2 separate regions of the Homo sapiens genome follow, and region 2 is linked to region 1. Evidence: fine-mapped expression QTL. A gene starts in region 1. The other region holds a variant in brackets. All regions are shown on one strand. Distances are from middle to middle. Region 1 holds the start of EBF4 (EBF family member 4). Region 2 overlaps EBF4 (EBF family member 4).

Region 1 (4,386 bases):
GAGTGGCTTGCTGGGGGCCAGTCAGGCATCCTTGGCAGAGCGTTCCTGTGAACGGTCTCAGACACAGGAGGGGCAGAAATTGAAGAAGGAGGCGAGGAGGAGGGGACAGTTCTTTTAAGAATGGGGAGATCTGAGCAGAGAAAAGAACATATTGAGACACAAACAGGAGATCGGTGGGGTAATCTCAGGAAAGGCAGAAGACAGGACTAAGCAAAAAGGTTCCACATCCATCTCCACAGTGGAAGACCGAGAGAAGAGAACGGGTGAAAAGACAGAAACGAGGAGGAGCATACGCCGCTGATGGTGCCAGCAGGGTTCTGCCAAGATTCCCTGAGTCCTCTCCACTGGGTAAGAGGAAGGGTGTCTGCTGGAAATGAGAGAGCCAGAGGTGGGTCTGAATGTTGGGGAGAGGAGTGGAGCAAGTGTGGAACAGCTCTGGGGGGGCTTCTCACATGTAATGTGTGTACAGGTCTTGGTAAATTGCAGGTTCCGATTCAGCAGGTCCCGGCAGGGCCTAAGAGTCTGGATTCCTCACCAGCTCCCAGGTGATGTCAATGCTGCTGGTCCGGGGACCACACTGTGAGAAGCAAGATTTAGAGAGGCAGATCAGGAGATGGAGAAAGAGACTGGCTTAAGAATTGTCTTAAGGAGAAACCCATGTTTGATAATCCCACCTAGGGTAAAAGCTGAGACCTGAAGGAGTCCTGGTGGGAATGGCAGCCCCCTGTGGGTGATGGGGAGAGGCATAGAGAGAAGGGGTGGTAAAGAGACCAGGAAAGGAGGTGAGAGGGCCTCTGTGATGGCAGGAGAACCAGCAGTGCCCCCAGGACGCCTCATCTGGGCCAATGTGTGACAGAACGCTAACTCACACTTGGAGGCCCCCCAGAAGAGGATGGGAGTGAGTTGGAGCAGGAAGGTGTTATTGCAGGGGTGTCTGAGCGTGAACATGGCAGGCAGGGCAGGTGGCCCCCATGCTGTTCTGCAGGAAAGTGCTGGACTCAGTCTGGGCTTGCTCGAAGCCTGGCCAGGACAACGTGGGGAGAGGGGCAGAAATGTCTCTGCCCCACGGTCAAGGGCCAGACGACTTCTGTGCCAGGAACTAATAAAAAAAAAGGAATGGGATCTGAGACGGGACGCGGCTGGGGAGAAACAGGAGGTGAGCTGGGCTCTGAGCCTACCTGTCCAACTCGCAATCAGAAATCAGGAGGTTCCTGAAAGGCACAGATGGAAACTGAAAATGCTTTAGGCTTAGGTAACCCAGCATCAGGAATCGGGATGGTTGGATGCAGGGACCTCGCCCAGCTTGTCTGGGGCCGCAGCCTACGGCAGGGACGTTTCAGTCCTTAGCTGGGGTGAAAGTGAGGTCAGGGTCGCCGGGGAAATGCGGGAGTACAGTCACGCGGGAGAAAGACGTCAAGAGCGAAAGCTCGGAGGCGTCAAAATGAGCAGCAAGTCCAGGCACAAGGCGTCGGGCGCGGAGAGTACGGCGGGTGCCGGGGGAGGGAGATGAGGCCGCGAAGACGCCGGGGCTTCGTCCGGCGGCGACGGGGAGGCCGCGGAGGTTCCCGAGCGCAGCGGGGCGCGCACCTCCCGCTCGGGCCGGGCTCCCTCGCCGCGCGGCCCCGGATCCTCCCTGCGCGGGTTTCCGTGGCCCCCGCCGGGCTCTTCCGTTCCCTCCCGCGGCCTCGACCAGGCCGCAGCCCCCAGCCCAGGCGACCGACTCGCCAGGGTCCGCCCCGCCGCCGCGGCCCGGGCCCGGCCGCTCCTCCCCCGATGATGTCACGTCCCCGGCCGCCCCTCGGCCGGCCGCGCCGCCCCGCCCCCGCCTCCCCCGGGCCCCCGTCCCCTGGGCCCGCCCGCTCCCGACATCCCTCCTCCCGCCTGCGCTCCCTCCCTTCGGCTACCGCTCCCCCGGGAGCGGCGGCGGCGGCGGCGGCGGCGGCGGGATGGCCCGGGCCCGAGGCCAGGCCCCGGGGAGCGGCGGGCGGCGGCGGCCGCGGCGGGGCGGCGCGGGAACCGGGCCCCGGGGGGAGTCGGCCGGGCTGCTGCTGCTGCTGCTCCAGGTGCTGCCGCCCGGGGCTACGGCAGGGCCGGGACGCCGGGGCACGCGGGGCGCTGGCGCTGGCGGCGGCGGCGTCTGCTGGCCCGGCGCGGCCCCAGCCTTTCCCCGGGACGCGCGGCTGCTGCTGCTCCTGCCGCCGCTGCCGCCACTGTCGCCGCCGCCGCCGAGCTCCGCGCCCGCAGCCTCCGCCTCCCGGATGGTAATCAGCGCCCCGCGCTGGCGCCGCGGGCGGGCGGGCGGGCGGGAGGTGGGGGCGGCGAGGGGGAAAGGGCGGGCGGCCCCGCGCCCCCGCCTTGCCCGAGGCAGCTCCCGGGGCGCTCGGGCCCCCCCTCCGACGACCGCGGCCCCGGGCAGCCGCCAGAGCGCGCCTCTGGGGCGCCTCCGCGCGGACCGGGTGCGGGCTCCGCTCCCCGCCCTCCCCGCCCCGCTCGCAGTCCGCCCGCCAGCGCTCAGGCCGCGGGGGAATCCCTCCATCTCCCCGCCCAGCGCCCCAGGAGGGGAGGGGACAGCGCCGGCGCCCGCGGACCCGCTTTCTCCGAGGGAGCGCCCAAGAGGCGAGCGCGCACTGAGCCACCCGGACTCGGCGCTGCGCTGCTGGAGGCGCCTGGTGCCGTCGGGTCGGGCTGAGCTAGACGCCCGCAGCCTCAGCGGGACCGGATCCGGGGCGGCGGGGGCGCTCACTCACCGCGCGCCCTCATGTTCCCTGCGCAGGACGCTCTGCCCCGCAGCGGGCTGAACCTGAAGGAGGAGCCGCTGCTGCCCGCCGGCCTGGGCTCAGTGCGCTCCTGGATGCAGGGCGCGGGCATCCTGGACGCCAGCACCGCGGCGCAGAGGTAAGCGCTCGGACCGGACCCGGTGCGCTCGGGTTGGACGGCTGCGCGCCGCCTCAGCTCAGCTTGCTGGAGCTGCTGGAGCCAGGGGCGGAAGGAGCCCTAACTCTGGACGGTCCCGGCGAGCTCCCCGGCCCACCCCGTCCGGAGTGCCTGTGCTGCCTCCTGAGGCTGTGGGGCGGGCTGGGGCGGGGCTTCTGCCTCCACTCCGGGCTGCCCCGGTAGATTTCTGACGGCCGCTCGCGGGTGCGGCGGTGAACGCCACCCCAGCCGGGCTGTCTATGGCTCTGAGAGAAGAGGCAGAGCTCCCAGCCATGACCCACAGCCACCGGCCGTCTAGGAACGTCCAGCCCCTCCTTCCTGGGCAGTCCCAGTGACTCTCCTTGTCCAATTCCGCAGCTCTCTGTCAGGAAAGGCACGAAACCCAGCCCCCTTTTTCCTTTCCCACGCCCCTCAGAGTTGGCGGATGGGGGTGTGCAGAGCCAGAGAAGCGGCTGGGGGCTGGACGGTGGCGAAGAGATGAGGTGGGCAGTCGGCCTGGCTGGACTGATTGGCCTGGGAACTGGGCAGGGCCCCTGCCTTTCCCTCGGGTGTTTTTCTGGTAGGTCCTTTGGAAGGCAGAGAGTCCCTGGGAACCCAGCACCCGCGCCGGTCTCCTCTGACTCCTTTGCAGGGGTCTGGGAGTCTCAGTAGGGGGTTGACTCCAGGATTTGAAAGCGAACTTTAAAAGTTTATTGACCTGCCCCCAAAGCCCCTGCACCCCCTGGCTTTTTGCACCTTCAGCTGTGACCATGGAGGGAGGCATTTAGGTATCCTATGGGGAGTCACAGTGGTTAGGATTAGGGAGGTGCCAGCTCTGCTGACAGCTGGGACAGGGTGGGCACTTGGCTTCCCAGAAGTCTGAGCTGTTGCAGCAGCCCGAAGGGATTCTGAATGGGGGGCTTAATGCAGACCGGGCCTGACACAGGAGCCCACATTCACACTCCGCAGGACGCCTCAACCTCACCGTGTAACAGACACACACCGCGCTTCATGTGCAAACTGAAGCCGTTTCTGCACGCCGGTCCTTTCCTGGCTGTCGGGAGGGAACGCTGGGGGGCTCTGGAGCTGATCTCTTACGGAAGAGAAAGGGTCTTGTGGATGAATTAATTTCCAAAACTTTTACAAGGGATATAGCTATATTCTAGAAAAATTGGAAAATAAAAAATTTAGTCCCTCCTCTGTAATACAACTACTGTCAACATTTTAGTGTATTTCCTTCCTATTTTTCTTCCCATTAACTTGTGTTTTCCTGTGCTATGCTTACAATTCCACCTCCTGCCTATTCTTCTGTTGGTTCTGGCTTTTTTTTTTTTCAACTTGAGAAGGTTAGTTTCTTAACATGGCCCCCTCTTTGGCCCCACCACCTGCTGTGTGGCGAGAGCTCTTTGTAAGAGTGGGTGAGGAGTGCTGATGGGGGCCTCTGGGAGTTAAGGTTCCATTTCTCTGCAACCT
Region 2 (4,386 bases), 22 kb after region 1:
TGTCCAGTGCTGCTCATGGGTATGATAACAAAGACTAGGGACTGACCATTAGATTTAGCAATGAGGAGGATATTGGTGACTGTCACGGGAGTCATTTCAGTGGAGTTGAGGGGCAGAAGACTGATAGAATTGTGTCTAAGAGAGAACAGGAGGAGAGAGATTGGAGACAGTGAGTAGAGGAACTCTTTTGAGTTTTGCTCTAAAGAAATCAAAGGAATCAGATGATGTCTGGAGCACTGTGTAGTGCCAAGAAAAAATACAGCTTGCTCATATGCTGACGAGAAACAGCCAGGAGGGAAGGGGAAAATGAGGATGCAAGAGAGAGGGGAGAATTGCTGAAGCAATATCCTTCAGGTGGCAAAAGGGATGTGACCTAGTGCATAGGTAGAGAGGCTGGTTTTAGCTGGGAGCATAGACAGTTCATCCATGGAAAAGCAGGGAAGACAGAGACATGGACACAGAAGTGGATAAATGGGTATATCCAAGTGGGAGCTTGGATGTTGTCTTCTGATTGCTTTGTTTTCTCCATGAACTGAGAACCAAGGTCAACAGTGGAAGATAAGGATAGAGAGGGAGACACTAGAGGGCGTGATATAGTTATCCAAGAGAGTGAGTGAACCAGGGGGATGAATGTCATGTGATTGACAAGCGGCACTGAGGGTACCCTTGACGTTTATGATCATAAATTTGGTGATAACTTTCTCCAGCCATGTTGAGCTGCACAGGTGCAGGTGCAGAACAGGTGAGTGGTTGCATAAAACCAGAGTTAGAGGTTTGTCAGTTGAGTAGAAGGAAACATGAGAGGGCAAGAGACTGAAATGTATGTGCAAGGGATATTTATTTTTTAAAAATGGAAGGATTTAAGCTGGGTAAAGAGACGAGTATGATGAGAGTGTGGACATCAATTCTGATGGGGCCAAAGGATTGTTGGAGTTGAGATATGAGACAGGGGTTGAACTGGATGTTAGGTGGATGGAGAATGGGTTGCCTGCAGATGGGATTCAGGGTTGAATTGGTAATGCGTGGCCAGGGAAGGTGGAGACAAGATCGTTGGAGAAAAGATGCTCACGGAATGGAGAAGAGAGTGCATTGGAATAATTATCTGTCTATACTGACATTGAAATAACCAAGAATTATGACAGGGACAAATGTTCAAGGGTGTATATAATGATCCAGGAGTAAAGCTTCATGGAGTGAAGGTAAGTGATCTTGGGGAAGATAAATGGCAGCAACAAGCAGTGGTTACCGTAACTATTTTTTCTCATATTTCTCCATCGTGTAAGCGAACAGCAGTATCCCAGTGATTTCCGTTTCTCTTACTCTGAGTGAGGTTGAGCCCACCAGGGCTATTTAAAGGCTATTTGTGTTTCCTTTACTGTGAACTGTCTGTTCATATCCTGTGCTTATTTTTCTTTTCTCCTTCCTTCCTTCCTTCCTTCTTTCCTTCCTTCCTTCTTTCCTTCTCTCTTTCTCTCTCTCTTTCTTTCTTTCTTTTCTTTCTTTCTTCTTTTTTGACAGGGTCTTGCTCTGTTGCCCAGGCTGGAGTGCAGTGGCGCAATCATAGCTCACTGCACCTCGACCTCCTGGGCTCAAGCCATCCACTCACCTTAGCCTCTGAAGTAGCTGGGACCACAGGCTCACGCCAACAAGCCCAGCTAACTTGTGTATTTTTTGTAGAGATGGGGTTTTGCCATGTTGCCCAGGCTGGTCTCGAGCTCCTGGGCTCCAGGAATTCTTCTGCCTTGGCCTCCCAAAGTGCTGGGATTACAGGCATGAGCCACAACACCCCACCATGTGCTTATTTGTATGTAAATTATTGACTTTTTAAAAAACTGATTTGTAGGAGTGTGTATTAATGAAATTATCCCTTTGTGATGAGTTGTCCATATTTTTTCAAGTCATTTAACTTTGCCTATGGTGAAATTTGCCCAGTTCCTAAATCTTTTACATACTCCGGGTTTTCATTATATTTAGAAAGGCCTTTATCACTCCAATATTATTTTTTAAATGTATCCTGTGGTTGCTTCCAGTATTTAGATGGTTTCATTGTTTACATTTAAATGTTTGATTCATTTGAAAAATATCTTGTTACTATATCCTATATGATACATGCAAAAGAAAAGTAAAACAAAATAAAAATTATAAGGTATAATTAAAAATTATAAGGTATAATAACCAATGTACACCTGTGAACCTACCAACAAACTTAAAATTAGAACATGAGAAATACCATTGAAGCCAGCTCCCCCCAGTCCCCATACCACTG[C/T]CTAACCCTCTCCTACAGGTAAACCAAGTTTTGTGTTTATCATGACCTGGCTTGTTAAAAAAAAATTCATCACAGATTGCATAATCCTAAAAAAAGTGTGTTGGTGTAGTTTAGTTGTGCTTGTGTTTAACTTTATAAAAAAAAATGATACCATGTTGCAGCAACCTTCTGCAATGCTCTTTTTAAATTCAGCATATTTCTAAGATTTATCTATCTTGTTGTATTTAGCTGTAGTTTGTTGTATTTAGCTGTAGTTTGTCATATTTAGTTTTTGCTATTATAAGCAAAGCTGCTATGAGCATTCTTGTTTGTGTCTCTTAATTTGAGTAAGTACAAGAGTTTGTTTAGGATATAAACTAGGTCAGGAATTGTCAGGTCATGGATACGCACATGATCATCTTAACAAGTTGATGTCAACTGTTTTCCAAGGTGGTTTGACTAAGTAACACTCCCACCCACAATACTGAGTTTCTATCGCTCCACATCCTCACCAACACTTAATAATGTCACACTTCTTATCGTTTGCCAATCTGGTGGGTGTACAGGGCATTTTGTGATGGCCTTAATTTGCATTTTCCAGATTACTATTGAAGTTGAACATCTTTTAATTTGTTGGCTTATTTATTTATTTATTTATTTTTGAGACACAGTTGCACTCCGTCGCCCAGGCTGGAGTGCAGTGGCGCAATCTCGGCTCACTGCAACCTCTGCCTCCCTGGTTCAAGTGATTCCTGTGCCTCAGCCTTCCGAGTAGCTGGGATTACAGGCGCACGCCATCACACCCTGTTAATTTTTGTATTTTTAGCAGAGATGGGATTTCGCCATGTTGGCCAGGCTGGTCTCGAACTCCTGACCTCAAGTGGTCTGCCTGCCTTGGCCTCCCGAAGTGCTGGGATTACAGGCATGAGCCACCGCGCCCGGCCTTACTCTGTATTTTACTTTAAAAATCTTGCCAGGCACAATAGCTCATGCCTATAGTCCCAGTTACTCAGAGGTTGAGGTGGGAGGATTGCTTGAGCCTGGAAAATTGAGGGTGCAGTGAGCCATAATCCCATCACTGCACTCCAGCTGGGGAACAGAGTAAGACCCTGTCTTAAAAAAAAAAAAAAAAAAAATCCTTGCCAGGCGCAGTGGCTCACGCCTGTAATCCCAGCACTTTGGGAGGCCGAGGCGGGCAGATCACCGGAGGTCGGGAGTTCGAGACTAGGCTGACCAACACGGAGAAACCCTGTCTCTACTAAAAATACAAAAAAATCAGCCGGGTGTGGTGGTGCATGCCTGTAATCACAGCTACTCGGGAGGCTGAGGCAGGAGAATCGCTTGAACTCAGGAGGCGGAGGTTGTGGTGAGCCGAGATCGTGCCACTGCACTCCAGCCTGGGCGACAAGAGTGAAACTCCGTCTCAAAAAAAAAAAAAAAAATTCTTTTTCTCTGCTGAGGTCATGAAGATATTCTTCTATATTTTCTTCCAAAGGTTTCACAGTTTTCCCTTTCACATTTGTCATCCCTATGGAACTAATTAGGGGTATGGTGTGAATTAAGGAATCAATGTAATTATTTTTTACTTAGGAACTACCAATTATTCCAATACCATTTATTAAATAGCTCATCCTTTCCCACTGAGTTGTAGTACCAGCTATGTCCTATATCAAGTTTTCTGCTATTTGTGGGTCTGTTCCTAGACTCTCTATTTTATTCCTTTGATCTATTTGATAACTCCTATGTAATCATCACTTTTTAAAATCACTATATCTGTATAATACCAATGCAAGGACAAGTGTATAGGGCAAGTCTTCCACCTTCCCTGAACATTCTTCAGTTGAATATTGGATATTTTGGCCTTTTGTGTTTCCATGTAAACACCACACTCCTCTTAGAGTTTTAAGCAATATTACAATGAACCTATACGTCAATTTGAAGAAGAATTTGTCTTTATGCTACTGAGTCTTCTGATCCATGAATATGGTTTATCTCACCATTTTTGTAGATCTTCTTTAATGCTTTTCAATATAGTTTTATAATTTTTTCAATAACGGCCACAAATACTCATTACTTTCACTAATTCATTTATTCAATAAATATTTATTGAGCATCTACTATGTACCAGGCACTAGGTAAAC

The links. PIP is the estimated chance that this variant, and not a neighbour inherited with it, causes the effect. A credible set is the group of variants that fine-mapping cannot tell apart.
Region 2: its variant is the best candidate, but not a certain one, in a credible set for the expression of EBF4 in whole blood (INTERVAL, PIP 0.71).

What each region holds. Positions count from the first base shown.
Region 1 is chr20:2,690,888-2,695,273 of GRCh38, forward strand. EBF4 (EBF family member 4) reads left to right here and starts at 1,893. Exons shown (of 17, transcript NM_001395167.1): 1 at 1,893-2,895. The coding sequence starts at 2,759. LOC105372507 (a long non-coding RNA gene) reads right to left here and starts at 1,733. Exons shown (of 3, transcript XR_937210.3): 1 at 1,179-1,733; 2 at 453-577. RefSeq lists an enhancer at 3,064-4,048.
Region 2 is chr20:2,712,860-2,717,245 of GRCh38, forward strand. The region is part of intron 6 of EBF4 (EBF family member 4); the gene reads left to right. Among named protein-coding and RNA genes, the nearest start is that of EBF4, 22 kb to the left of the region's middle. The variant C/T (reference allele first, on the strand shown) is at 2,267.